7 linked regions of the Homo sapiens genome follow. The protein of the gene in region 1 interacts with the protein of each later gene in a pairwise test. Each region holds a gene or a part of one and is shown on either strand. Other genes may lie near its edges. The genes, in order: SDCBP, UBE2R2, ANKRD36B, PRPF38A, THG1L, KHDRBS2 and SCML1.

Evidence for each region.
Region 2: the proteins of SDCBP (region 1) and UBE2R2 interact in binary tests that used the Homo sapiens proteins (3 or more experiments, as listed by UniProt).
Region 3: the proteins of SDCBP (region 1) and ANKRD36B interact in binary tests that used the Homo sapiens proteins (3 or more experiments, as listed by UniProt).
Region 4: the proteins of SDCBP (region 1) and PRPF38A interact in binary tests that used the Homo sapiens proteins (3 or more experiments, as listed by UniProt).
Region 5: the proteins of SDCBP (region 1) and THG1L interact in binary tests that used the Homo sapiens proteins (3 or more experiments, as listed by UniProt).
Region 6: the proteins of SDCBP (region 1) and KHDRBS2 interact in binary tests that used the Homo sapiens proteins (3 or more experiments, as listed by UniProt).
Region 7: the proteins of SDCBP (region 1) and SCML1 interact in binary tests that used the Homo sapiens proteins (3 or more experiments, as listed by UniProt).

The regions. Positions count from the first base shown.
Region 1 is NC_000008.11:58,559,082-58,563,260, forward strand, and holds part of SDCBP (syntenin-1), read left to right. Parts: intron 1-1,202; exon of another isoform or gene 1,203-2,666; coding exon of another isoform or gene 2,667-2,714; intron 2,715-4,179. UniProt on the Homo sapiens protein: Multifunctional adapter protein involved in diverse array of functions including trafficking of transmembrane proteins, neuro and immunomodulation, exosome biogenesis, and tumorigenesis.
Region 2 is NC_000009.12:33,900,523-33,904,701, forward strand, and holds part of UBE2R2 (ubiquitin-conjugating enzyme E2 R2), read left to right. Parts: intron 1-4,179. UniProt on the Homo sapiens protein: E2 ubiquitin-conjugating enzyme that accepts ubiquitin from an E1 ubiquitin-activating protein, and catalyzes its covalent attachment to other proteins by an E3 ubiquitin-protein ligase complex.
Region 3 is NC_000002.12:97,537,511-97,541,689, reverse strand, and holds part of ANKRD36B (ankyrin repeat domain-containing protein 36B), read left to right. Parts: intron 1-1,460; coding exon 1,461-1,489; intron 1,490-1,583; coding exon 1,584-1,656; intron 1,657-3,326; coding exon 3,327-3,355; intron 3,356-3,449; coding exon 3,450-3,522; intron 3,523-4,179.
Region 4 is NC_000001.11:52,410,944-52,415,122, forward strand, and holds part of PRPF38A (pre-mRNA-splicing factor 38A), read left to right. Parts: intron 1-171; coding exon 172-257; intron 258-498; exon of another isoform or gene 499-579; intron 580-1,570; coding exon 1,571-1,681; intron 1,682-2,935; coding exon 2,936-3,048; intron 3,049-3,677; coding exon 3,678-3,704; intron 3,705-3,818; coding exon 3,819-3,916; intron 3,917-4,179. UniProt on the Homo sapiens protein: Involved in pre-mRNA splicing as a component of the spliceosome.
Region 5 is NC_000005.10:157,729,828-157,734,542, reverse strand, and holds the start of THG1L (probable tRNA(His) guanylyltransferase), read right to left. Parts: upstream 3,124-4,715; 5' UTR 3,103-3,123; coding exon 2,912-3,102; intron 2,745-2,911; exon of another isoform or gene 2,534-2,744; intron 2,114-2,533; exon of another isoform or gene 1,933-2,113; coding exon of another isoform or gene 1,928-1,932; intron 1,676-1,927; coding exon 1,499-1,675; intron 1-1,498. UniProt on the Homo sapiens protein: Adds a GMP to the 5'-end of tRNA(His) after transcription and RNase P cleavage. This step is essential for proper recognition of the tRNA and for the fidelity of protein synthesis.
Region 6 is NC_000006.12:61,894,210-61,898,388, reverse strand, and holds part of KHDRBS2 (KH domain-containing, RNA-binding, signal transduction-associated protein 2), read left to right. Parts: intron 1-3,555; coding exon 3,556-3,754; intron 3,755-4,179. UniProt on the Homo sapiens protein: RNA-binding protein that plays a role in the regulation of alternative splicing and influences mRNA splice site selection and exon inclusion. Binds both poly(A) and poly(U) homopolymers. Phosphorylation by PTK6 inhibits its RNA-binding ability.
Region 7 is NC_000023.11:17,747,348-17,751,526, reverse strand, and holds part of SCML1 (sex comb on midleg-like protein 1), read right to left. Parts: intron 2,128-4,179; coding exon 2,023-2,127; intron 1,634-2,022; coding exon 1,234-1,633; intron 1-1,233. UniProt on the Homo sapiens protein: Putative Polycomb group (PcG) protein. PcG proteins act by forming multiprotein complexes, which are required to maintain the transcriptionally repressive state of homeotic genes throughout development.

The sequences.
Region 1 (4,179 bases):
AAAAATTTTGAAAGTCCATTTTTCTTCTAGGCTTGAGTTGCTGGTGTGTGAATTAACTCAAGAGTTGTTCAGACAACTTCAGTTAATATTTATTTGAAGAGAAACTTCTATGGAGAGAAAAGTTAGGAAACCACTTCATTTTTCATGAGAACAGTGGGATTTTGAAGTTAGCCAATGACAGAATCAAAAAAAGAAATCAAAAATAGAAATAATATTAGATGGCCAGGTAACATTCTTTTCAGTGCATTTTGGTTGTTGATATTGCAACTTGCTTTGCATTTTGTATATTATATATCATATGCATTTTGTTTATATTGATAGAATGGCTGAAAGTTTAAATAAGGCAAAAAATTGTGTTTAGGGAAAGGCTGCTAGGAAATTGATCCTTTGAACCCAAAGAAGATAATTCACTTTGTTCTCCTGGATTAATACAATTAAATCATATTTGATAGTGCTCTCTCAAGAATGTGAATTTTTTTTTTTTTCTCACAAACCCAGATTCTGTTTTTCCCTTAAGGACTGTACCAGGCCACTACTATTCACCATTGTACTGGAGATTATAGCCAGAGAAATTAGAAAAGAAACAAAAGATGTGTAATAGCAGCAAGAAGGTGCAATAGAAAGCTCATATGCTTCTTCTCCCCACAGAAATACTGATTCAATAACAATACACACACCAGACCTCTTTGTGAGAAATCCGGAAACTAGTTAAGAGGCTCCTGCATTCTAGGTGAGCAGTAAACCAGCTGCAGTGAAGATGGTAGGAAAATTCATCCTACTTGCTCACCATAGTTCATTCCCCTGGCTCAGCATGGCATGAGCAAGAGGAAACTCCAGGCTCCTGGTTTTTCCCTGGGCGGGGAAAGAGAAGACTGAAACATCTGTGTGACATTCAGATTTTTCAGAGGTCTGCCCAAGGGTCTGGTTTTTATTTTGCTTGAATATAAGTTCTGACAGGAAAGGGCACCAGGTTGCGGGGTCATTGAAAACAAAGTTGACAGTTTAGATTAGCAGGCACTCACCATGGTCCCTCCCCCTCCCTCAGCATGAAACCAGCAGGAGAAAATCCTCAACTCTTGGCTTCTCCTTGGGGAGACAAAAGAGTTGGAATGTGTGTCCAGTGTTTCACCTTTTCAGTGGGCTGAGGGACTGGCTTCTGTCTTGCTTGTCTTGGAAAGCTGACAGGGGCTGGTGTATTCCAGGTGCCCAGGAGCCACTGAGAACAGAAGACTTGTTGCTGCTCTAGAGGACCTATGGTAGGGCAGACAGAGGATGATACAGCTCAGCAGCTTGTCCCTACGTGTGGCATGAAAGGTGTTGGAGAGAGAATAGTGGAGTATGTGTCCAACATTCCAGCACTTCAGAGAGCTACCCCCAAGGGACTGGCTTCTGTTTCACCTGACTTGGAGCACAGGCAGGAGTGGACATACTCTAAAAGCCCACTGATGGGAAAGGGCACCAGGTTGGAGGCCTCTGAAAACAAGAGAGCTGGGTGGCTTGCAGCAGCTCCAGAGAACCTGAAGTACCACAGACAGATAGCACAGGGAGCAAAAGATTATGAGATCCTGAAAAAGGAAACGAACAAGTTCATCTTGAGAATTTATACACACTGGTCGAGAAGAAGCATCCTCAGGAAAGGTTCAAAAGGCATGCAGAATCTCTAGTCAGGCCGATCAGTGAGGATCTTTCTCTGTACAGAGCCAGACCACAAAGACTGGGAGGGGTGATATTTTTTCAAATGCTTGGATCCCAACATGATGTTAAAAGACACACAAAGAAATAGGGAAACATGGCACAATCAAAGAGTCAAAATATCCAGGAACCTACTTTAAGGAAACACAGATATCTTCATTATCTCAGAAGGAATTCAGACTAACCACCATAAACATGTTCAGTGACCCAAGGAAAATGCTGCATGAACAAAATGGTATCAACATAGAGATTGAAAACGTAAAAAGGAACCAAACAAACATTGTAACAGATGCAATATGCTTCTTTGACCAAATTGAAAGATTTACTAGAGGAGTTTAGCAGCAGTGTTTTTCAAGGAGAAGAATTAGTGAACTTGAAGCCAGGTCATTTGAAATTATCCAGTCAGAGAAGCAAAAAGAAAAAAAATAAAAAAAGAATGAAGACAGCCTAGAGTACTAATGGGACAGCATCAATTTTATCAATGTAGATTGTATGGAAGTTCCATATGTTGGAAAGAGAAAGGAGCAAAAAGCTTATTTGAAGAAATACTGGCCAAAACTTCCCAAACTGAAGGAAGGCAGTGGACATCCAGATTCAAGAAGCCAAATGGACTCCAGAGTAGAACAATCCGAAGACATCTACATGGAAACACACTGTAATCAAATTGTCAAAGAATTTTGAAAGCAGCAGGATAAGAACAACTTGTCATATACAAAGGAGATTCTGTGGGACTCTAAGTGGATTTCTTAGCAGAAACCTTGCAGGTCAGAAAGAAGTGGGATGATATAGTCAAACTGCTGGAAGAAAAACTGCCAGCAAAGTACTGTATGTGGCAAAACTTTTCTTTAAAAGTAAAAGAGAAATAAGATTCTCAAAATCTGAGAGAGTTCATCACCACTATATCTGACTTAAACGCCAATGGGAGTCTGTTAAATGGAAACAAAAGTATGTTCAACATGAAAGTATAAAATTAAATGATAAAGCTATGGACAAATAGAGACCTGCATATTATTGTAATGGTGGTGAGTAAATCACTTATTTCTGATATATAAGTCTAAGACAAAAGTTTAAGTGCCTGTAACTATAAAAATATTAATAGATGCACAACATAAAAGATGAAATTTGTAGCATCAGTAATGCAGTATGGGGATGGATGAGAAGAAGCAGTATTGTATGCAGTTGAAATTATCAGCTTAAAATAGGTTTATTAGAAGATGTTTTATGTAAACTCCATGGTAACCACAAAGAAAATACCTATAGAAAATACACACACACAAATAAGGAATCAAAGCATATCTATTAAAAAAAAAAACAGTGAAACAAAAAGCATGATGGCAAGAGAGGAAAGGAAGGACAAAAAAGTTTCAAGATAGAAAATCATTAACAAAATGTCATTGTAAGTCCTTCCCTATCAGTAATAACTTTAAATGTACTAAACTCTCCAATCAAAAGACATAGAGGGGATGAATGGATTAAAAAAATAAAACCAAGAGCCAGCTATACCCAGTTTATAAGAGACTCACTTCAGATTTAAGGATACTTTTTATTTTTTTACAGAAATGGATATACTGATTCTAAAACTGATACTGAATTGATAGGGATTTAGAATAGCCAAAACAATTTCGAAAAAGAACAAAGTGGGAGGATTCACATTAACTGATTTTAAAACTTAATACAAATGTACAGTACTCAAGAATGTGTGGTACTGGTATAAGGATAGACATATAGATCAGTGAAATAGAATTGAGATTGCAGAAATAAGTGCATACAGTTATGATCACTTTTCAATAACGATGCGAAGACAATTCAAAAATGTTATTTTCAAAAAATGGTGCTGAAATAACTGGGTTTCCACATGGATAATAATGAATATGGATCTATACCACACACCGTGTACAAAATTAACATAAAATAGATCAAAGATATAAATGCAGGAATTAAAGACATAACATTTTTTGAAGAAAACATAAGGGTAAGTCTTCATAACCTTGAGTTGGGCAGTAGTTTCTTAGATGTTATATCTAAAGCATAAGCAACCAAGAAGAAATATAGATTCAAATTTGTCAGAATTAAAAACCTCATATTGCAAAATGCACTGTGAGAAAAAATGAAAAGACAATCTACAGAATAAGAAAAGTATTTGTAAATCATATATGATAGTGGTCTATGATATGGTCTGAATGTTTGTGACTGTGTCCCTCCATTCATATGTTGAATCCTGTAATCATCAAGGGGATGGTATTAGAGTTACCATATGACCCAGCAGTTGCATGCTTAGCTATATTCCAAGAGAATTAAAGATGCATTTATTAAAAAAGTATATAAACTTACATATTATTTGCTAACAATGCAAATGCTCATTGGCATTTTTAACAGCATTATTTATAATAGCCAAAAGTGCAAATAACCCAAATGTCATCAGCTGATGACAGCATAAATATAATGTGGTATACATACAATGGAATATTATTCTGCTATGAAAATGAA
Region 2 (4,179 bases), on another chromosome or scaffold:
CTCTTAACTTATCCTAGTTCTACTCTGGTTCTTTATTACCACCTAACATTAGTGTCATTCATTGGTTGCAGTTAATAAACAATGTTAATTCATTATAAGTAACTGAAGTCCATACGCTTTCACATTTCCTTTGTTTTTACCTGTCGTTGTTTTGCTCCAAAATATTTCATACATATAAATATATATCTATATATGTACGTGTATACATATATGTATTTAAATTTTTTGTAGAGATGGGGTCTCACTAAGTTGCCCAGCTGGTCTCAAACTCCTGGCCTCAAGCAGTCCTCCCCACTTGGCCTCCCAAAGCGCTGGGATTATAGGCATGAGCCACTGTGCCCTGCTCATCACATTATATTTAATAGTCATGTCTTCATGGGCAACTCCTCTCTCTCTCTGTCTCTGTCTCTCTCTCTCTCTCTGTTTCTGTCTGTGTCTCTGTCTCTTGTCTTTGAGACAGTGTCTTCCCGTCACCCAGACTGGTGTGCAGCGGTGTGATCACAGGTCACTGCAGCCTCGACCTCCTGGGCTCAAGTGAGCCTTTCACCTCAGCCTCCCAAGTAGCTGTGACTATAGGTGTATGCCACCATACCTAGCTATTAAGCAACTCTTGATTATAAATTTTCTTGTTTTTGATGACAATTTTGGGGGGTACTGATCAGGTATTTTGTGCAATGTCCCCCAGTTGAGATTTTTCTTATGTGTTTTCTCATGATTAGTCTAGGGTTATAGGTTTGGGAGAGAAAGACCAGAGAAGTAATGTGCCATTTTCATTATGTCATATCTGAAGTATTTACTATCAGTGTGGCTTATCCCTGTTGATGGGATACCTTTCATCACCTGCCTGAAATAATATTTTTAGCTTTTCTCCACTGTAAAGTTGCTCTTTCCTGAACTTTTCATTCTGTACTCCTTGGAAGGAATATGCATAGCCCACAACTAAGGAGAGGGTGGCTATACCTCCTTGAAGCCAGGGTATCTATATAAATTATTTTGAATTCTTCTGCATGGATTGATCTATTCTTCCCCTTTATTTGTTTATTCAATCATTTGTTAAACATTTTTACTGATACAAAAACTAATAACTTGATTAGAATCTCCAGGTTTATCAAAAGTGAAGAATTGGAAGCTTCCTGACTTGTAATAGAAGCTCTTCAAGATGTGTCAAATGACTGTTGATTATGTTTGTTACTCATTCCTTTGGGTACCTTGTTCCATCCAATTTATTTAGAAAGAGTTGAGAAAATAGATATATTAAAGATTTCAGCATATCTTACCAATATATTTTTTAAGACAAAAAATGTTACTTTCTTTCTAAATTCAAATAAATGTGTTTTTACACCTCACCTTGACAACCATCATCCCTCTGAATGTTTTTTTCTCATATTTCTTTTTTTTTTTTTTTTTTTAAGACAGGATCTTGCTCTGTCGCCCAGGCTGGAATGAAGCGGCGCGGTCACGGCTCAGCACAGCCTCAACCTCCCGGGCTTGAGCAATCCTTCCACTTTAGTCTCTTGGGTAGCTGGGACCACAGGCATGCATCACGGTGTCTGCTCAAGATTTTGTATTTTTTTTGTAGAGAGATGGGGTTTTGCTTTGTTTCCCAGGCCAGTCTCAAACTACTGGGCTCAAGCAATCCACTTGGCCTCCCAGAATGCTCAGATTATAGGTGTGCCCCAAAGCACCTGGACTAATTTTTAAGTTTTTTGTAAAGATGGGGTCTCACCATGTTGCCCAGGCTGGTCTGAAACCCATGGGCTCAAGTGATGCCCCTGCCTCAGCCTCCCAAAGTGTTGGGATTACAGGTGCTCACACTACACCCGCCTTCTGAATCTCTTATCTATACAAGAATAATACCTACCTCAGTAGGTTGTTGATAGAATTTAAGTGAATAATGCATGTAAACCTACTAGAATGGTGGATATTACCTGGCTGGCTTGGGTTGCAGCTATTATTTTCAAGGAATTTTTTGGGTCTAATGTGAAGCAGTCATTTGCTATCTATTAGAAGAGAAACACATTTCTTAGTTCCTCATATTTATTTCATTTTGCTACAGGGAGACATAATTGCTAGATGCCTGTATCGTAACCAGTTCAAGTAGTACATAATTTATCTTGGGTTCTAAATACATGAAAAGAACTAAAATAATTGTTTTGAGCTGTTTTTGAGATATTCTGTAATTGAGAATACGCTTTCTTTTTTTGAGGGGAAAAGTGTCCTACGTAGCAAATTATGTATACATGAATTATCTCGATAGACTCAATTTTAAATTAGTATTAAAAATTCTGAGTTGTAGGCCGGGCGCAGTGGCTCACGCCTGTAATCCCAGCACTTTGGGAGGCCAAGGTGGGCAGATCACCTGAGGTCGGGAGTTCAAGACTAGCCTGACCAACATGAAGAAACCCTGTCTCTACTAAAAATACAAAATTAGCTGGGCATGGTGGCACCTGCCTGTAATCCCAGCTACTCGGGAGGCTGAGGCAGGAGAATTGCTTGAACCTGGGAGGCGGAGGTTGCGGTGAGCCAGGATCGTGCCACTGCACTCCAGCCTGGGCAACAAGAGTGAAACGCTGTCTCAAAAAAAAAAAAAGTCTGAGTTTTATGTATTCTATATTACTCAAGAGTATGTTTGAGGGTGCTACGTCTTCAGAAGTAATTGTAGCACATTATTTTGACATTATAATTAGACAATGTGTATAAAAGTTTTTAAAAAATATTTTGGATGATTTGTTGAAAAAATTGCATCCAAAAAAATCCCCAGTTGTACTTTAATAATGATTCTGGTGCATGGATTTTCAGGACGAGTAATAACCCTAGATTAGAGGAAGTGGTAGCTATAATACTGGTGATTCTTGGTTTTGCTGGTTGAACGTTGAATCAAATGCTTACACCCTCTCCCTATTTGAGAAAATAAGCTTCCCCTTTCCTCAAATACAAAGCCCCAAACAAGATTTTCCTCATTGCATTTTTATGCTGCTTGGCTGGATAATGTATTGCCACCACCCATGGGAATTCAGGCTTTTTATCCTTTACTTCTCTTGCATTTACACGCAAATGATGTCATTTGCCTTATCTCAGCTTAAAGTATTATGAACATTTTTTCTTTTAAAATAGGCCTACTTCTCATGTAATCCAGTCTTTTGGAGGCAGAGGATTCCTTTTATACTTATCTGCCCATCTGAAACTGCCTTTGTTACTTTGGGTACTAGCATCATTTTGTTTCCTCACACTTGAGTCCCCAGGCCACCTGAGCCACAATTTAGGGACATTCCCCATACTCAAATCAAGATTGTTTTCCCTGCTTTTATGCTGCTTTGTTTAGAAGCTTCCCAACTACAACTAGTTATGTGGAGTTACACCTAACATCTTCACACAGCTCTACAAGGTATTTGGGTTGGAAATTGTTTACCTTCTTAGACTTTTTATCACTTAGTTCTATGTAATCATTGGGTAGTCCTTCAACATTTTGATCTTATTGGTGTTTTCGGGGGCTGTGGGATGTTTTGTACACTTTTTGGAACCTCACCTGTCTGGAATACCTGGTGGTGCTCAGAACTCTGAGCGGAAGTCAGGAAAGCACTACCTAATGAGCAGATGTGGAATACTTTCGCTTATCCCTTTTGTTTCTGTGTTCACTTGGTTGTGAGACAAGGGAGGTTTTAAAGTAGTAAACTGTTATATTTTCTAACAGGTCATTTATGGCACTGAAATATTAAGAGGGAAGATACAAGATGTAGTGGAAATGGGCAACTATTTTCCTTCTTGTACCTCTCTGCTGCTAAATTATCTAGGGCCAGCAACTGTCTAAGGGTTCTGGGCTCCATGTCCAGTTTATGGGTGGCTGTAGTAAGACAGCAGTGGAGATGGCATAGGGTTCATCTCATCCTGTTTTGGAGTCTTATCTGCTGCCTCTCACTGGCATCTGAAAGTGATTCCATATTCACGTATTTGGTTTTCTTCTCCATAACCACGTGTACTCAAGACTATTGTTCAGCACCTCAATGGACATATTTATAACATAAAGTGGCAAATGGAGCACTTTTGTAACTTGAAGAATAAGGGACTCCAGTTACCTTCAAGAGTCTAAGTCAGTCTGTATTATCAGATCTGGTGAGTAGTGAGAGTTAGCCAACCTGAAAAGGAAGAATTTTAGGGATGCAGAGAATCAGCCAACTGGTG
Region 3 (4,179 bases), on another chromosome or scaffold:
ATAACCATAGGAGAGTGGTTTAGCACATAACAGCCTCAGGGGACAGCATCATTTTGCTTTAATTCTACAGCAAGTTTCCATCAAGAGGGGAAGGAGAAAGAGATGAAGTAATAGATATTATAGGCGTCAGATTATATTGTTATAAACAGAGGGAAACGTCATCCTAATACCTCAAAAACAGCATAGAATGAGAACGAACAAGATCACTGAAGTAGCAATTATTTTCCACAAGGAAGAGGGATTGTGAGGCAGGAAGGAGAGAAAAGAAGAAGTTATTTATGTAATTTTGGGGTTTCTGTTGAGGAAAGCTGAGTGAACTCACTTCAGATAAATTTGGAATATTTGCATAAAAGAACACTAAATTTTGGCTTCTCCAAGAACTACTGGAAGCAGGAAACAATGCTAGAATTGGGATAAAGCACACTGACTCATTACTCTTCTTTGCTACTATTAGGCATCAGAGATACATGTTTTGTTGATTTTAGTTATAAAAATGAGATAAACTTGAATATGAATACATTGGCTTCGTTGTTCAAGGAGCTAACTCTTGGGTAAAATAGCTATTGGATGAAACTTCTTTAGAGAATAGCATGATACTCCCAACAAGACTATTTTAGAAACAAAAAGTATGTGGAATTCTAATTAACTCCTAAAGTGGTCATTTTCAATGAATATTGGAGTGATTTGTGAATGTAAAACATATTAATATCTAACGCTTGTAGCAGTTTTACTTTGTAGAAGTATGTCAAAATTGATAATTGATGATATTTTTATTGAGGCTAATATATTATCCTTTGGTGCCATGAATGGATGAAGAAACTTTTGGAAAGCTAAACGAGTGGATACAAGAAACTTAGGCAAATTATTACACCACGTGGGTTTGAGGAATAATAAATATTATCTACTCAGTTTCAGCAAACAGATATCCAAGGTGATCAATTTAGGACACTTCTACTGAAGAGACGTGAAGTGTACATTCAACTGAAGTGTCATTGTAATTGTGTACCTTCTCTGTTATCGGGCAAGTTAAAGAGCATGATGAATGTCTGTAGTATAATGGTGTAAATCCTTTTGATTTCTTGCATGAAAGACCTGTGGGATCAAGTACCACCTACTTTGACATTGATTCTCAGGTGTATGAGTTGATCCTCTGATTTTAGATCACATTTGTCCTCATCACTCAGCATATCCACGTTGATATTGACACGGTTTTATTTTAGTTTTAGACATATGACAAATCATACCATGCTTGAAATTGTAAGTATATTTTTCATGAAGGCTGTATTACTTTTTTTCAGTGTATTTCTGTCATGTTCCAATCCCCAGACACAAAGTAGGAAACATCAAATCCTACCCTAGTACAGGCAGAAGGATACAGCTTGATGCTAACACTGCATGAATGTATGAATAACTTTATCATACGTGCATGTGGGTGATTATGTATCCCTTTTGCTTTTCAGTGTCTTCTCAGAGACGACCAGCCTTGAAGGTAATTAAACTCTTATTTATATTGTGAACTAGTAATTGTATAGTCTATGAAACATACTTTATTTATTTATTATTTTGTTTCAAATTCCATTCAGACTACAGGTGATGAGAAAGATTCTGTTTCGAATATAGCCAGAGAAATAAAGGATGGAGAAAAATCTGGGACAGGTAATTTTACAAAACACATTTAATGTCATGTTCAGTCCAGATAGAAAAGAACTTCTCTTCCCCAAATAAATCAGCGGGGGGGTTCGTCGCAGCTGCACATTCCGATTCTGCAGACCTGAGATTCTTCATTTGTAATAAGTTCTCGGGTGACGCTGATGCTGCTGGTCTTGGACGTGATCTTCGAAGTAAGATTATAGACTTCCCCACATTGAAATTGGGAAGAAGAAACATTGGAGACCATGTCAAGACATAAGGGGCTCAGGGGACAGCATAATTTTGCTTTAATTCTACAGCATGTTTTCACCAAGGGTGGTAGGAGATAGAGATGAAGTATAGATTTTACAGATATCACATCGCGTTCCTAAAAACAGATGGAAAAGTGATCACAATAACCCATAAACACTGTAGAATGAGAACTAACGAGACCGCTGATGTAGCAATTACTTTCCTCAAGGAAGAGGGATTGTCAGGCAGAAAGGAGGGAAAATAAGAAGTTATTTAGGTAATTTTGTTGTTTCTTCTGAGGAAACTTGTGTTCAGATGCATATTCGAATATTTTCCTAAAAGAAGATTTGATTTTGACTGCTTTAGGAACCAGTGGAAGCAGGAAGGACTCCTAGAATTGGGATAAACCACAGTGACTCATTGCTCCTCTTTGTTACTCTTGGGTGTCAGAGATATATGTTTTGTTGATATTAGTTATTCAAATGAAATAAACATGAATATGCATATATTGGCTTTTCAATTAGCTAACTTTGGATAAAATAGCAATTTAATGAAAATGCTTTAGAGAGTAACATGATACTTCAAACCAGACTATTTTAGAAACAAAATTAATTTGAATTCATTAATTGACTTTTAAAATTGTTATTTTCAATGAATATTGTAGTGATTTCCAAATGTAAAAGGTTATTCATATCTAATGCTTGTAGCAACTTTATTTTGTATAAGTTTGTCATTTGATCATTTATTATACTTTTTGATATGGTTTATATATTATACTTTGTTGCCATGAGTGGATGAAGAACCTTTCTGTAGCCTAAACTAGAGGACACAACAAATGTAGGCACATTATTACACCACATGGGTTTGAGAAATAAAGAATATTGTATACAGGATTATCCCAACCTATATCCAAGCTGATGAAGCTGCGACACTTCCACTGAGGACTTGTGAAGTGTACATTCTATTAAAGTGTCATTGTCATTGTGTACCTGCTCAATTACCAGGCAAGTTAAAGAGCATGATGAATACTTGCAGTACAGTGGTATAAATCCTTCTGATGTCTTGCATGAAAAACATGCAGTAGCATTTAGTACCTTCTTTGACATTGGTTCCTGGGTGTATGAGTTGCTCCTCTGATTTTAGATCACATTTCTTTTCATCATTCAGCATATCCACATTGATATTGACACTTTTTATTTCAGTAATACACACATGACGCAAAATACCTCTTTGTAATTTCTGACTGAATATTTTCTGGAAGCGTGTATTCCTATTTTCTTCAGCATATTTCCTCATGTTCCTGTCCCAAAGACACAAACTGTAAAACATCAAATCCTACACTAGTACAGGCAGGAGGATACAGCTTGATGCTAACACTGCATGAATGTGTGGATAACTTTATCATATTTACATATGATGGATTATATATTTCTTTTACTTTTCAGTGTCTCCTCAGAAACAATCGGCCCAGAAGGTAGTTACTCTTTCATTTATATTTTGAATTATTTATTGCATAGCCTATGAAATATATATTATGTATTGACTATTTTGTTTCTCTTTCCATTCAGGTTATATTTAAAAAGAAAGTTTCTCTTTTGAATATTGCCACAAGAATAACGGGCGGTGGGAAATCTGGAACAGGTAATTTGGCAATATACATTTAATGTCATGTGCACTCAAGATAGAAGACAACGTCCCACCCCTGAATAGATCAGCAGGGGGCTCATTGAAAATGCACTTTCTGATTCAGCAGGCCTGAGATTGTGCATTTCTACTGAGTTGTCAGGTGTTGTTGATGCTGCTGGTCCTTGGCCATGATCTTAGTAACAAGCTTATAGACTTCCCTACATTGAAATTGTGTAGAAGAACCGTTGGAAAACAGTTCAAGACATAAGAGATAAGAGGATCCGGGGACAGCATAATTTTGCTCTTATTTCAGAGCATGTTTCTATGGAAAGGGGAAGGAGAAAGAGAAAAAAGTAATAGAAATTATAGATGTCAGATGGTACTGCTTAAACCAGAGGGAGGAAGTTGTCATAATAACCCATAAACACTGGAGAATGAGGAGCAAGGTGACCACTGATGTAGTAATTATTTTCATCAAGAGAGGGATTGCAAGGCAAGAAAGAGGGGAAGGAAGAAGTTATTTAGGTAATTTTGGGGTTTCTGCTGAGGAAGCCTGAGTGAACTCACTTCACATGCATTTAGAATATTTGCATACCAGAAGATCTGATTTCTGGCTGCTCCAATGACTACTGTAATCAGGAAGGAGTGCTAGAATTGGGATAAATCACAGTG
Region 4 (4,179 bases), on another chromosome or scaffold:
TGTTTTTGTGTTTGTCTCCTGCTAATTGGGACATCTTCATTCATCCCTTAATCTCTTCTAAAGAGGCCTAGCACATAGATGTCCTGATATGAAGTCTTAACACTTCTTTTACTTTTTGGCATCTAAATCTTTTATTTCCAGGTTGTTTGCTCTAATGACTTTTTCTTGCAGAGTTTGAATTGATGCATGTTGATGAGTTTATTGATGAACTATTGCACAGTGAGAGAGTCTGTGATATCATTCTGCCCCGACTACAGGTAAGAAATAAAAGTCTGTTACCAGAGTCACCCTTCTCTTCCTAGACGGGCAGACAGACAAACACATACACACAGCTTAAACACTGAAGCCTGTGGATCTTATGGGTCCTCTTAATGAATAGTCTTCCTGTCTGGGAGTCCCAAGATAGTGGATTGGGAGTGAGAGGAAAATAGATAAAATATTTGAAGGGTAGGGCTTTAAAAGTGAATGGTTTAAAACAAGGAAACTTTGTTTTTCTCCATCCTTTTGTAGTTCAGGTGCATGTGTGAGTTGTGCCTCCCTCAAACCTTGTTACAAAGTCAGCACATTACCTGTCTATCATGAAAAAAGAAATTTATTCAGGATGTTACATCAAGGGTATTGTAGCTAGAGTAGGTAGGGAGTTTTTAACTTCATGAACGTTTTTTTTAAACTAATCTTCATGTAAAAAGCCAGGACATAAAACAGATAAAAATAGGGCCAGGAGTGGGAGACTGAGCCATTAATTCCTTAAACTTGCCTTCACCATCCTGCTTCCCTTTCCTAGTGATAAACGATTATCCATGAGGCATCTTTTCAGGAAATGAGTGTGATACAGCTCTCCTGTTCCATGTTGGCACTGTAGGGCATGTAGTGGAAAGAATGAGATTATAAATTTGAAAACCTACTTTGAGGGCCCAATTCTTATAGCAAGACAATGTCTTGCTGTGTTGCCCAGGCTGTTCTTAAACTCCTGGGCTCAAGGGATCTTCCTACCTCAGTCTCCCAAGGAGCTGGGACCACGGGTACATGCCACTACATTTAGCCATTTGGCATTTTTGAAATCAGCTTTGCCTCTCTGATCCTTAGCCACTCAAATAAACATTGCTAAGCCATATCCCAGATTAAAATGGAACCAGTTCAAAATGCATGAATATCAACAGCTCCCGAGATCCTGGGTCTACTGGAGATTTGGTACTACTCTAGGGCTAGGCCTCTTCTAGTGGAACTACCAGCCATGAACTTATTAGCCCTTGGATTTTCTCTGTGTGTGAAGCCCTTACTTTTGGTTCTAGGCTGTACCTATACTGATTGATATTCCCATGACTTTAGAGTATAAGGTACAGGGAATAGAGTCAATAGAAAATGAAGATGTTCTCTTCAGGTTTGTATTTATGTTTATAGGAGAACTTTATAGATTTCAGGTCTATTAAACTTGTTAGGAAAATCTTGAACTGTCTTTGAAATGAAATTGCCTCAGCTGTTGCTCCTTGGAACCCTGAAGCCCAGTGTTGAGGTTTCAAGAAATAGGGGAAATGGCAACAACCCCTAACTCTCATCATTTTCTCTGTAGAAACGCTATGTATTAGAGGAAGCTGAGCAACTGGAGCCTCGAGTTAGTGCTCTGGAAGAGGACATGGATGATGTGGAGTCCAGTGAAGAGGAAGAAGAGGAGGATGAGAAGGTCTGGCACCTGAGACTTTTATGGTTGTAGGGGAGGGAGTAATAGAAAATGGGAATGGTTTTTTGTTTTTAGACTTTAATTTTTAACTCTATTGGCCGGGCGTGGTCGCTCAAGCCTGTAATCATAGCACTTTGGGAGGCCAAGGCGAGTGGATGACCAGCGGTCAGGAGTTCAAGACCAGCCTGGCCAACGTGGTGGTGAAACCTCGTCTCTACTAAAAATACAAAAATTAGCCAGCGTTGTGGTGGGTGCCTGTAATCCTAGCTACCCAGGAGGCTGAGGCAGCAGAATTGCTTGAACCCGGGAGGCAGAGGTTGCAGTGAGCCAAGATCGCAACACTGCACTCCAGCTTGGGCAAAAGTGAGACTCCGTCTCAAAAAAAATTTTTTTTCTAACTCTAGCCAAAAACAATATTTCCTTATTAAAAGCACCTCAGCTCTGCCATATACTAGTAGTATAATCTTACGCAAATTACTTAAATTTAGTTTTCTCCTATGTAAAGTGAGGTTAATGATACTTTTTTCCCCAAGACTGTTAAAAGTATTAAATAAGATTATAAACTTAAAGCCCTTAGCAGAGTATTGGCACATTATAATTGCCTAATAAATGGTGGCAGCTATTAAATACTTGGAAAGAAAGAACACTTTCATAATTGCACCTATCCTAAGGAATAAACCTTGTTTAGGAGGGGGAAAATGTCAACCGCATAGTCATGTTCTTTCAGTACTAGTTACGGTGCTGAAAAGTTGAAAACAACCAAGCTGCCCAGTTGTTCCAGGAAGCAAACTTTTTTTTTTTTTGAGATAGGGTCTTGCTCTGTTGCCCAGGCTGAGGTGCAGTGGCTCACTGCATTCTCGGCCTCCCAGGCTCAAGCAGTCTTCCCATCTCAGCCTCCCAAGTAGCTGGAACTACAGGCACGTGCCAGCATACCTGGCTAATTTGTGTATTTTTTTTGTAGAGATGGGATTTCACCATGTTGCCCAGGCTGCAGATAAACTAAACATACACACATACACACACACAGGTCTGTTTCTGTTCCCTCTCCTATGAGTCATTTTGGCTGTCTTATATAGCTCATAATAAGTTTTGTTAGTTAATAGGGTAAGTGCTTCCCTCTTTGTAGTCAGGTTACTGTGCTTTAAAGTCACATGGAGATGGACTTTGGGACAAGATGGGGCGTGAAGTATAATTAGTGTTCCTAGATGGCTCTTTATAAGCCTGTGCCTTTCAATGACCCAATCATCTTGTTTCCAGTTGGAAAGAGTGCCATCACCTGATCACCGCCGGAGAAGCTACCGAGACTTGGACAAGCCCCGTCGCTCTCCCACACTGCGCTACAGGAGGAGTAGGAGCCGGTCTCCCAGAAGGTAAAGCCTAGTCATTGGCCTTTTCCCAGAAGATTTTGAGCACTGTAGCCTAGAAGTTTGGATTTTAGAGAAGGAAAAATGCACGTCTATGGAGAATGTTTGCCCAATATATTAGTTATCTGTTGCTGCAAAACAACCACCTATAAAACCTCATTGGCAGACAACAATAACCATTTGTTCCTTTCACAAGTCTGCAGTCAATGATTTAAGCAGAGCTTGGATAGGCAGTTTTTAAAGTACCTGTTCTGTTGTCGGCTGTCTACTGGCTGGTATGGAATTGCCTTAGCTTGGATGACGGGGGAAATTTCTCTTCTCTGTGTCATCCTCTAGCAGGCTAAGTTGGGCATATTCTCATGGTAGTGGCAGAACTCAAGAGCAAACAAACCCGGTCATGCAAATGTTTTTCCAGTATCTGCTTTTATCACATTTGCAAATATCTCATTAGCCAAAGCGAGTCATGTCACCAGTCCTAAAGTTAGAATGGGAGGGTGCTAGAGTTACGTGACAAAAGACATGGATACAGAGGTGGGTGATACAGAGAAGCGTGAAGGATAAGATTGGGGCCGTTTTTGCAATCTACCACATCCAGTGCGCCAACCTAGGCTTTCTTCTTCCTCTCCTCTTTATAGGCGGAGTCGATCTCCCAAAAGGAGAAGGTAGGCCTTCAGTCATTTGTGATGAAGGATAGGGCTTTGGGGAGGGGGTGGTGGTATTGGTGTTATATGTATATTGCTAACCAGATCTGGTAGTCTGACCAGTCTTTTCTACAGCCCCTCCCCTCGCCGAGAAAGGCATCGGAGCAAGAGTCCAAGACGTCACCGCAGCAGGTCCCGAGATCGGCGGCACAGATCCCGTTCCAAGTCCCCAGGTAAAGCTTGTGGGCCTTTTGCCACAGGTTGTCTTAACAAAGAAATGTAAAAGGAGTAGTTAGCCTCCTGCAGTACAGGAGTGCCTGACTGTACTGCCTAACAGAAAAGCAAATGGACATAGAATTTGAAAATTAAGGTTCACAGCTTGACTGTCACTTATAAGCTTTGCTGATAAGGTTTGCTTTAGTTTTTTCATCTAAAATTGGAGGAATAAGATCTAACATAATAGTGAAAACCCAATATGATGTTTGTGAAATTAGTC
Region 5 (4,715 bases), on another chromosome or scaffold:
AAAAAGAAAAATACACGGAATTAGTTCAACACCATGATAAGACCTGTGGGTACCACAGAGAGTACACAAACTGCCCAGAAAGCCAGGAGATAAAATGCATTTGGCTAAGAAACACTATTTTAATACCTTGGTTCTGTATTTTTTTTTCTTTTTTTAGGACAGAGTCTTGCTCTGTTGCCTGGGCTGGAGTGCAATGGCACCATCTTGGCTCACTGCAACTTCTGCCTCCTGGGTTCAAGTGATTCTCCTGCCTCAGACTCCCGAGTAGCTGGGATTACAGGTGCAGGCCACTACGCCCAGCTAATTTTTGTATTTTCAGTAGAGATGGGGTTTCACCATGTTGGCCAGGCTAGTCTCAAACTTCTGACCTCAAGTCATCTGCCTGCCTCAGCCTCCCAAAGTGCTGGGATTACAGGCGTGAGTCATCACACCTGGCCAGTTATGTATTTTAAATGCAGCCTGCCTCTCCTTCCAGTTCTATTAAGTAACCTACTGATACTAAACCTTTCCCTACAGGATGTGATACGAATTTATGATTCAAGGGGTATTTTTAAATTTTATTTTATTTTTTAAAAGATGGAATCTCTCTGTCCCTCAGGCTGGGGTGGATTGGCACAATCATAGCTCACTGCTGCCTCAAATTCCTTGGCTCAATGGATCCTCCTGCCTCAACCTCCTTAGTAGCTGTGACTATAGGCACATGCCACTGAGCCCGGCTAATTTTTAAATTTTTTGTAGAGATGAGGTCTCACCATCTTGCCCAGGCTGGTCTCAAACCTCTGGGCTCAAGTAATCCTCTCCCTTACCCTCTCAAAGTGTTGGGATTACAGGCGTGAGCCACCACGCCTGATCTGTTTGTGTTTACAGTCATGAAAGGAGAGAAACCATTGTTGTAAAAAAAATGCCAATTCAGGCTGGGCGTGGTGGCTCATGTCTGTAATCCTAGCACTTCGAGAGGCCAAGACAGGAGAACTGCTTGAGGCCAGGAGTTTGAGACCAGCCTGGGCAACACAGAGAGACCCCACCTCTATTAAAAAAAGAAAGAAAGAAAAAACCAATTCATTATATGATTTGTTTCCCATACAGCGTTTCAAAATACTGCCAAATCAAATATCAGATTTGTGTATTTTATAATGAGATCTGTCTTGAGGAACAGTGTAATGCAATGCACGTAGAGACTATCACTGGCTAAAGCCAACCTATGAATTGTTAATATTACATTCTTATAGTCTCTGTTTCTAATCTTAATGTTCAATGCCAGGTCAGTCTAGAAACCAATCTTATGGGGCATGTGGGGAAAGAATCAGATAAAAGAGGCACACAGAATGCTCGGCTATCAGATGGAAGTACAACAATCTAAACAGGAAATATACATGTACTCTGCAGTTACAAATACTGCAGACATCATCTGTAGCCTGTAAGTCTGCGATTAAGATAAACAGAAAACCAGATGCTGGGAGGAAATATTCTGAAGAAAGGAGTTAGGTCATGGAATTACCTGGCTCTTCTTTTAAACCAATTGGTTTTCCGCTTGAACACAAAGCTGTACTCATCACTCTGTCCATACGCGATCACAATATCCTCTAGTTCTTCCATCACAGTCTGCGCACATTTGGTCATCAGCTGGAGAGCACGGCTGTCATTGGGTTTTGCAAAGTTGTGCTTCTCAGCAAACCTTCACAGGGGAAAAAGGGAAGAAAGCATGGATGGAAGCCTGTCATTAACAACACGCTCTGTTGCTAGATAACAGAGGCTGTTTGGAGGAAGATAATGTAATAGCACTGTGAACTCAAATGCTCAACTAGCCACAACCTGATCCATTTTCTTAAGAACTTAGTTTTTTTCCTGCCCTGAAATTGAGAAAGCCAGACAGAAATGCTAAGCCTCAACTCTCCTTTCTGTGAAATGGGAATAAAAGAATATTTACCTCATTGGGTTGTCCTGAAGATTAGGGAGAAGATAAAAGTAATCATACCTAGCTCCTAGTAAGTGCTCAATAAATGTTAGTTATAATAATCATTAACAATGCAGCCCTCTTCAAAGATTAAATTCCCATCTTTCTGTTATATTTCTTTCTCCCCCTCCCTCTTTTTCTGAGACAGGGTCTTGCTCTGTCACCCAAGCTGGAGTGCAGTGTCCAATCACCGCTCACTGCAGCCTTGACCTCCCAGGCTCAAGCGATCCTTCCACCTCAGCCTTCCCAGTAGCTGGAACTACATGTGTGCACCACTGCGCCGGGCAAATTAAATTTTTTCTTTTTCTTTCTTTCTCTCTTCCTTCTTTCTCTCTCTCTCTCTCTTTTTTTTTTTTTTTTTTTTTTTTTTTTTGTAGTGGCGGAGTTTCACAAACAACAACCACAGAAAAAACAAAACAAAAACAAAAACTTGGTCTCCAACTCCTGGCCTTAAGTGATCCTCCTGCCTCCCGCGCCCAGCCTTCTCTTTTTTTCTGACTCTCTGTTGAATCTAGTCCATGTGGCCTGTTACTGATAATGAAGCACAGACGTTAAGTATTGCCCACAAGCAAGGCTTACACAGACTTCTGAACAGTCAGCATTCAAAGATATCTAACAGAATAGCTAGGCAATTGGCTTAAGAGCTTAAATATTGTGCATGAGAGTGACTTTTAACAACAGGTCCTTGCTAACAAGTCTCTGTTCACTTAACACGGGCACTCCAAGCCAGATCCTCATCACGGGAGCACATCGCCCATTCAATTACGCTAACAGCCAGCGTTCAGGCACTGTCCTAGCCAACACGCAGGGCGGGGCAATGCTCCATGCTGCGCACTCATTGGCTACCGCGTTACCCTGGTAACCGTGACTGGAGCGGGCGGGAGGACTTGCAAGGGAAGAAGCTGGATTCCCCGGAAGCGCTGGCGCATCGCGACGCCCCGAGTCGAGCTCGCTCACCGATGGAAATTCCGGCCGTCCAGCCGCACTACCACCCAGCAGTGTGCCAGGCAGGTGTCGTCAGCCTCGAAGTCCCTCACGTACTCGAACTTGCTTTTTGCCATGGTCGCCCCCAATCTCAGGTACCGTCTCAGAGTGATGGAAATGGTGGCCAAGGAATCGTGAACCTTAACTTTACAGGCGCCCCACATTCTACACGCGGAAAGGAAAGGGCCAGATAGCCCCGCCCCGGAAGTGTTCTCTTCGCGGCTACTCTAGCCGTAGGGCAGTCATAGTCTCTCTCGCCTCTCCCTGTAGTTCTTAACCTCCCAGGCAAAGAGGATGGAGGTTTAGGTTCCTCCGTTAGCACCTTCCACGCTTGCTTCTTCCTCCTCCCGTCCTGCGGCAAATCAGTCTCACGAGGTTTTTAAAAATTATTTTTTATCTGCTGGTCTTGACTTACTGGCAAAAGCAATCAGTGTCCCCGTTAGTGCCCAGATCAAAATCATACCCCAACCTAAAAAAAAAAAAAAAAAAAAAAATTCTTTTTCTGGTGTTTGAAGGTGTAGCTGTGATGTTTCCCCTTTTCTTAGTGGCATTTATTAACTTGTAGAAAATCTGGAATACACCAAAACTATAGTTAAGAAAATTAACACTTTGTTTCTCCGTCTTTCCCATCAAAGCATTGTGGATGGTTCCTTTCAGTCTTTTTTCTTTTTGTGTATGTAGGTTTACACAGGGAATGCACAAGATTGGAATTATTCGCCTATACAATGTTTATATATTTTTCCACTCAGCTTGAGCATTTGCCAGTATCATCAATTATTCCAAAGTGTGATTTTTAAAAGAAAAATGGACTCAATATTCCAACATATGGGTATACTAAATTGATTTATTCAACTTTTTCACCATTAAATAATCACAGAACCAGTGTTTGATATCTTGTTGCTGGTGGATAATAGTAAAAATAAAATCCTAATATTTGTGTCATACTTTGTGATTTACAAAGCTCTTTCAAATTCATTACCTACTTACTTACTTTTTTTTTTTTTCCATCCTCAAGAAAGATATTCAGGCCAGGCACGGTGGCTGACGCCTGTAATCCCAGCACTTTGGGAGGCAGAGGCAGGAGGATTGCTTGAGTTCAGGAGATTCATACCAGCCTTGGCAACGTAGCAAGACCCCTGTTCCTACAAAAAAGAAAAAAAATTATCCAGGCTTAGTAGCCCATGCCCGTAGTCCTAGCTATGGGAGGATGAGGTGGGAAGATACTTGAGGCCAGGAGTTCGAGACTGCAGTGACCCATCATTAGCCACTGCACTCCAGCCTTGGTGACAGAGCAAGAATCTGTCTCTAAAGAAAAAGAAAAATATTCAAACAATATAAATCCTTTTATATGTAGCAAAAAGTCTCTCACTGACTCCTAACAACATACTTTAGGCAGTTACTGTTACCAGTTTTTTGTGTATCCATACAGGGATCTATATCAGTATGTGTGTATATCCTCATAATAGTACCACAAATGGTAGTCATCACTCCTTTGATGCTCAGAGTAACATCAGAGGGATGCAAAAGAGGAACTGGGATTTCACCTTTACAAAGGGGAAATCTGAGACTCAAAGAGAAAAAAATAATTTACATAAGGTCACATATGTGGCAGGACCAAGACATAAATTATGACATCCTGCATCTTTTCTTTGTTTCTGTTGCTGTGAAGTCAGTTTTCTGTAGGTTATCATTCCTCACCTTTTACTTCCACAAACTCCTCTCTCCAAGCTGACCAGGAGACAACCAAATCTTGCCTCCTCTAGGAGCCCTACTTTCA
Region 6 (4,179 bases), on another chromosome or scaffold:
ATGTATTACATGTAAAGACATTTACAACTGTATCGGATATTTAGTAAGTGCTCGATACTATATATTTGTTATTGCTTGAAAATTAAAGATTGGTCATACCAAATGCCCACAAAAAAAAAGAAAATAGCTTTACAAAATAGAAAATCTTATTAATAAGAGAACTTTGCATAACATGAGTTAACAATTCCTAATTTGAATTGTTATGAAATTATTACTTTATGAAGTTATTTAATTACACTTATATTCAAAAAGATGATGTCTAGAATATTTTAAGCTCTATAATTTGTTGAAAGTGTATTTAATTAAAACAATTTACATTTCAATAATCCTATCTATGATAACTCTAATTTTCCAATAATAATGTATACCAGAGAACAAAGCATTACATCTATATATTGTAATAATAATTTATTTTGCATAATTGATGAATGAAAATATATGACATCTCTAACACACATCACCACTATATGTTGCAGTGAGTGCAGTCACTGAAAAACGAAACATCGGGGTAAATTTTGAAGGCTTTTGTTTACCACGTTGAGAACGAATACATAGAACTAATAGAGTTTGTTAAAGAGGAGAGTAGTCATATTTGTTTATGCGAAAGACTACTCAATTATCACTGTGGTTGATGCAGAAGAGTTACAGTGATTGAGAGAGAGAGAGAGAGAGAGAGACAGAGACAGAGAAACCGTCTTATGGCAGGGGAGCCAATGAGAAAACAATTCCATCATCCAAGGCAGATAAAAATGAGCAGCATTTGGAATAGACAGGGATAGGGCCAGATTAGAGATTAACATTTATATGAATTAATGCCAATTAAACGTTGGAGAAGAAGAGTTCCCCAAGAGAAAGATAAATTTTTGGTGTCTAGCCTGGTGAGAAATTGATGATATCATTAACTAAGAGTAGGTGAAGGATCAAATTAAATGAAGAATATAATTATTCTTGTAAATAATCTGAGCTCTGTGGATTGCTGGTGTGACCTTGGGCAGGTGACTTGTTCTCTCCATGCCTTAATATCTCAATGTATTTTTAAAAAACTTAGAACTGCCCACATGACAAGCTTGTCAAGATGCTTAAATTGGAGTATTCATTTAAGGCAGTGGTTCCCAAATTGGCCTGTATTTTGGAATCACTGGGAGCTCCCTGTCTCCAGAGATTGTGGTTTAATTGGCCTAGGGTATGGCCTGGAATTTGGAATTTTCAAAAGATCCTCAAGTAACTTTAACATGCAGGCAAGTTAAGAAACTTCTGATATAAGGAACACAAGCCAAGATATGGCATTATGTTAGGAAGAAAACAGATTATAGCCATCATCAGAGGTAGGGATTGCAGGGTGCAACCATGAGATCGAGGATAGAAACTGGGGACATCCAGATTCCAAAGTGGGTCCAGGAATACAAGCCAGTGAAGGAGGATAACGAATAAGGAGGAATGAGGAAAAGTAGAGAAAAGCAGAGTCATAAAAGTCCAAAGAAACATTTTCCAGATAATAGTCCACAATCTTAAAAATAGTAGAAAGGTGCTGTGGCATGGAGACTGTAAAGAAATCTAGTGGATTTGGAAATCAGTAGGCTACTGGTGATCTCAGCCAAGAGCATTTTCAACAGAGGGGTGAAAGCAAGAACTAGACTGATAACATTCAGTTCAGGAATGTAGAGGAAGTAAAGAATTAAACAGAAAATATTCTTTCAGCAAGTCAGACAAATAAACGACAGGATACTGTGGTGTGGTTTTAGCCAGGGGCAGTATCCTAAAAAAAGTGATTTGAATTAAATTGGAGGAGAGAACAATGAGGTTAATATTCCAGGGAAAGAACATAGTGGATAAGAGGTAATGAGTCAGGTTCAGGAGGCAGGTTTGCTAGGGCTGTGTCTGGTAGTCAGTTGATGAAGGAAGAAAATGGAAAATTAGATTTGATATGAGCATCATATAATATTAGAGCAGAAGGAAGTACTATAAATTTAGAAATCTGCATTTTACTCATTAGAAAAAAAAATATCTATCTTAAGCCTAGGTAGTTATAATACTTACCCATGACTATTCAAGGGTATAGCGAAGGCTCGTGAATAGAGTAGGGTGACCATATAATTTATTGCCCACACATGGATATTTTTGAGAGTGTTAAAATGCTAAACTGAACAGGAAGCTAGGACAACAGTTATAAAACCTGGACATATGCTCATCTTGCTTATGAGGAAACAGAAATGTGCTTGGAGGAGCAGTGAAGGCAAAATTGGTTTTTACATCCCTTTATGTATTATCATGGTAATACAGAATACTGTATTCTTAGCCATGTTGTACTTGCAGCCAGCACTGGGCCTCTGGGTCTTTGTGTTTCACCTTCTCCCAATCTAGGAGAGTATTCTTTATACATTAGACTCACAATAAATTCTCTCATCATTTCTCTATTCATCAGCTCTGTAATCTATTTAAAAATTTTAAAGGTTTTGCCAGCATTCGTACCCTTCACTTATAAATGCTCACTTTTATTTTAAGCAAGAAAGAGCCATCTGACTGCTATTCATAGCAGACAGCATAACCTATGTCCCCATATGTGCCTACAGCCAAATACTGTGATTGTTGACATCTCAATGATCATCATTTTTTTCCCCAAAGCTTTAGTGTTCCCACTGAAAGCAGTGCTATCTAGAGGCCAACCTTTCAGACAAAATAAAAAGTGAAATAACTGTTCTTTTGCCCAAAGACTTCAGACAAACACTCAACCATTCTAAAGGCTTCAAAATGCCATAAAAATTGGCCACAACCATTTGATCTTACACTTTTAGTGCAAGTCAATTTTGTATCAAGAACTGCAATACAGAGTATTCAGTCTGTTATTTTTATTACAGATACTAAAGTATTCCTCTAACACCATAGTTATGGTTAAGAAAATATATTCTGTCAGGGACTGCACCAGTTCAGGGGGTTACAGGCATGATGATAAATCAGTGACAAAGAGTTGTGATTTCAAGTAATCTCAAACTTAAGCAGCTATAGTAAACAGAATGATATCACTATGGTTAGATTCCCACATTTTATTTAAGTGCAGCCACCTTTTTTTTTGGTAAATGACAGCATTGTCCATCACTATCTGTAATCCCCAGCATAAAGGAGATGCAGACATCTGAAACCGCTCAGTTTCAGAGATGGTCCAGTGAGTCATATATCAGACGATGCTCTGATTTGTGTCTTCTTCGAGAATTTGGAATTTAATGGGGTTATATTCAGAGTGGGTTTTTGTTTGGGTTTTTTTTTTTTTTCTGGCTTTGGGTTTTTAGTTATATAAAAGACAATAACAAAGTATTTTACATGGTTTTTATAAGAACTAATCATAGTCAGTGTTTACAATTATTGTCTTCTATAGATATCAACACACTTTATATCTTATATAATTTCTATTAAATGCATACACACACACACACACAGAGAGAGAGAGAGAAATTTGTATTTATTTCATTGTATGGAGGCTGTGAGATGAAAACTTTTTCTGTGATAGGCCCTTTTCTCTCATCACCTGTTTCTCATCTATACATGACTTGTTTCTCTTAGGGGCCGTGGGGGTGCCATTCCTCCTCCCCCACCACCTGGACGAGGTGTTCTCACCCCTCGGGGAAGCACTGTAACCCGTGGAGCGCTTCCAGTGCCACCTGTAGCAAGAGGTGTCCCTACCCCTCGAGCCCGGGGGGCACCAACAGTGCCAGGATACAGGGCACCTCCTCCTCCAGCCCATGAAGCTTATGAAGAATATGTAAGTACTCTTAAGAAATAAGTTGTAAGGATGAGTTAAATTGATTAGTTAACAAGCTACGTCTCAAACTGTTCATATACCGTGAATATAGCAGGTAATGTTTGTTGCAGAAACGAATGTCATTTACAACAGAATTTAAGCAGTGCATTTAAATGAGAGCATTTTGAGAAAAGGTTTCATTTTACAGGTGTCATCACTGTTAGTGCTAGTTAAAGAGCTTGTATTTTAAGAACCAAACTTATCCTTAGGAAGTTTGATCAGATTTCAAATGAGAAATAATTATAAACAAAAGGTGAATTGCCATGTATTCAGAGATTTCTGGAACTTGACAAAGATTAGCATAAAACTCAGAAATATTTAACAAATATAATATGATTATATTATAAACTTTGGGAGTATTGTAAGACCGTGTGGCTGGTCTTTCA
Region 7 (4,179 bases), on another chromosome or scaffold:
AGTCTTCTTTGGCCACAGGCAAATATGGCAAAAGATCTGTCACTTGGGTAAAATTAGGTTAATCTAACCTAACCTATGACTCTCTTCAAGTATTTCAAGGAATTTCTCTCTTAATCTATCTAGATTAGGTTAATTTTACTAGCAAAATATAATGGAAATTCTCCAAATTTACAGTTTTATAATTGCTTAAATTTGTTCCTTTTAATCAATGAATCTCAATAACAACCCCATTATCTTTAAGAACCAAATTAGTACTTTTATCAAATCTTCCCCACGTATTCAATAAGGTTATTTTTAGTATCGCTTTACTTTTTAGATTCCTGTCTCTCGTGGCTTAAGTGCTAATGTGCATTGTGAAGAAAACAAGATTATTTTCTGCTGAACTAGGTCAGAAGTAACTAACATTTTATTTAATTCCTCTTTCATGTTTAATTGCATAGTAATAGAGATTTTGGTCAAAGGTTTATATGTTTAAAAAATAACTGAGATATGAGACAGTTTAACTGCTCATACTTCAGAAAGTTTTAGCTATGCTCTACACTAAGTTGTGTTGAAATTTCTTTGTGTACTGACAAGTATCCTTTTACTCACCCACAGTGTTAGACTCCCTAAAATTAGTGTGTGATGACTAAAGTGGGTTTTGTAATTAGTTAGGAAAATTTGTTTCTCCAACCAGGACCATCAACACAATTTGATCTTTTTGTGTGTGTGAATTAGCCAAAAACATACCCTTTCTTCCCTACCATCTGGGCTCTTGCCATATCAGGAGTGTTTTTTATTTATCTAGGGAAAGGGTAAATAAAAATAGAAGATTTGGAAAAGCACAATGGGGCAGAGTTCTAGAAGTGCTACTCACCAGCTCTGTGATCGTGGGGATGGCGTAATAAATGTGCCAAAACCATGGGGTCATTATGAGTATAAGTGGAGAAGAGGCATGTCAGCTGATTGGTGCAGTGCCTTGCACATAATATGCATTGAATAAATGTTAGTCATCATTCTGAATATCACCTAAAACCAGCCCTCAAAATAGGAAACGAACAGCTTCCACTAGTTTGCATCAAGGATGTTGATAAATATAGGTCAAATAGTGCTACTTGTAAATATGGCATTTCAAACTCACCAAACCAGAAGGGAAGCAGAGAGATGATCCAGTATACCTATTCTCCATCAAAGCTGAGTAACTCATCATCTCAGGGGCATGTACCAAATTGGGCTCTCCCTGGGCCAGCATACCTGAAGGTGGTGCTGCAGAAGCATGGTCAGTTGAGTAAGTGTTGTGGATGCTGTCAGCCCGAGGGTTGCCAAGGCAGAGCCCTGAAGAAGAACCATACGTTGCACCATCAGATGCATAATACGGCTGACAATTATGCTCAGAGAAATCTGAGGGATGCACTGGACTCGGAGTGCGGCTGAGGATCGGGTCCTCCTCCAGCTCAGCTCGCTGGTATTCTTCCATGCAAAAGGATGGCCTTGGAAGGTTGCTCGGGGAATTATTCTCACGCCTTGACACTGGTAAAGTGGGGCTGTAACTTTCAGGGTAGGAGAATGTCTCGTAAACCTCATTTTTCTTCATTTTCTGGAGTTTAAGCTTTTTAACAAGCCGGTAAGAATGCTTTTTATATCCATATCGCTTCTGAAATCACACAAACACAGCATAAACCAACAGTGAGTAAAAAAGTAAATAAAATTAGTAGCAAATACATTAATACTTATTTTCCATGCAACATTGCTTTACATTATTAAAAATAAATGGTCCCTTTTGATTATATAATTCTTCAATCCTACATTTTAATTGTATTTTACACATTATAATTACAAACATAAAAATAGGCAGCATCATAAATTATCAAACCTAAACTTCAGCGTTCTCCCAACAGAGTTTAGTCTCCATCTACTGTTACAAGTATAGACATGCCTTGCTAATCTCACACAGATACTGGTACTCTCTCACTTCTAGCTCATTGGCATCTTTACAAACCAGAGGTTTATCACAGTTGTAAAAATGTTTTTTATAACACTTACATGATTTGTCCACAGGGATCTCGCATGGAAACGTTGGATTTTTGAAACCTTTCTACGAATCACATCAATCTTCTTATCCAGGTTTTGCAGAGCATCATATATAACCTATTATAATACAATGTAGTCATATAATTGGTATACAATGTAAAATATAATTTTTTATTTCAAAGAAAAGTAACGTGAAAATACCATTAAGTCAAATGTTAACTGCTAGACACAACAAAAGTTCTCAAGCCATCAGAAATGTCTTGCTCCTATTCAAGGCCTGGCTGTAGGTGACACAGAGCCAACAGGCTGAGCTAGAGTAGTCCCCTCCCCTGCTCTACTCCATGTAGGAATTGAGGAAGCTCTAATGCTGGTGAATGAATGTCCCACAATGCCTCTATGCTAGCACATTGATGATGAAGACACTGCACATCAAGGAAGGTGCTATTTTAGGAAAGAAATCTGCTAAAAGAACAAAGACTCACTTTATGATATACATATGTAACATATATGTTCATATATGTACAAATATGAAGTCTATATTATATACAGACAGTGAGTGTTCCACTCCAGAAAGAACACTGAACCAAATATAACAGATGTGACTTTTGGCTTCAAAGTATTTTTAAATCACGCAGTCAGCAATTAATCTTACAAAACCGTTAAGTACACATCTCTTACGCGCCAATCGAACACATAGGAGACTGATAAAAGTCTGAGAATTCTTCTTGAAATACACAGAGACTTTGGGCAAAGAAAAATACACTTAAGCAAAGGGCCAGAAACATTGCAATCAAGCACATAGGAGGCTGATAAAAATCTGAGAATTCTTCTTGAAATACACAGAAACTTTGGGCAAAGAAAAATACACTTAAACAAAGGGCCAGAAACATTTCCTCATTCATTCATTCATTCATTCATTCACTCATTCAACTAAACCTTTATTGATGGCCTACCACCTGGCAGAACTACTTTGCTAGGTATTGAGAACATGGACCGAAAAAAAAAGCTCCTGGCCGGGTGCGGTGGCTCATGCCTGTAATCCCAGCACTTTGGGAGGCTAAGGCAGGTGAATCGCTTGAGCTCAGGAGTTGGAGACAAGCCTAGGCAACATGGCGAAACCCCCGTCTCTACCAAAAATACACAAAATCAGCCAAGCGTGGTGGTGCATGCCTGTAGTCCATGCTACTAGGAAGGCTGAGGTGGGAGAATCACCTGAGCCTGGGAAGTTGTGGCTGCAGTGAGCCATGACTGAGCCACTGCACTCCAGCCTGTCCTAGAGGAACTACCATCTCAGCTGGGAGAGAGACAAGTAAAAAGAGGATTCCAGCAGACAAAGTGATAAACAGCCTGGAACAGTGGTTTGCAAAGTGTGGTCCACGGACTGGTAGCATCAACATCACCTGTAAGCTCATCAGAAATGCCAAATGCCAGGTTGTACCCCAGACCTATGGAACCTGGAACTCTGAGAGTGGGGGCAGTGGTCTATGTTTTCACAAGCCCCCCAGGTGATTCTGATGGCCCTAGTGAGAACCACAGGGCTGCGGCACTGAGATAAACAGTGCAGGCTCTTGGGGAACATGGTTGGGGTCAAATACTACAGTCCAGCCACTTATTGGCTGTGTGACCCAGGGCAAGTTACTTAACCTCTCTGTGCTTCAGTGTCCTCATGTAGGGAATCAGGATGAAAAGCTCTCTCAGGGTTCTCTCGAGGACGAGAACCTTGCTATAGTATTAGGTTAATACTAACAGTAACAGCACTACACTACACCCGGTCCAACAGTGCTCAGTGGTCTCTTCATGTTACTATTGTTATTACCAGTGGCGTGACACAGGTGGGAACAGGAGGCTAAGCCTGCACAGAAAAGCAGTCCTAACCCAGGCTGCAGTCACGGAGACCTTTTCAGAGGAGGTGAGGTCTGAAGTGAGAATTAAAACATGAGAAGGCCCTCGCCAGGTGAGGATGCATGGAAGGGCTTACAGCATAGAAGGAACAGCAGGTTCATAAATACCCAGAGAGAAAAACAGGAAGCCAGGTGTGGAGACAGCAAGTATGAATGACATTCCAGGAGTGGGGCTGTCACAGGAAGAAGAGAGTGAGGATGACAGGAAAGGAGGGATGGGAAGCAAGAGAAGTGGCTTCTCCAAGATGTGGGAGAACTCGTAGAGGGG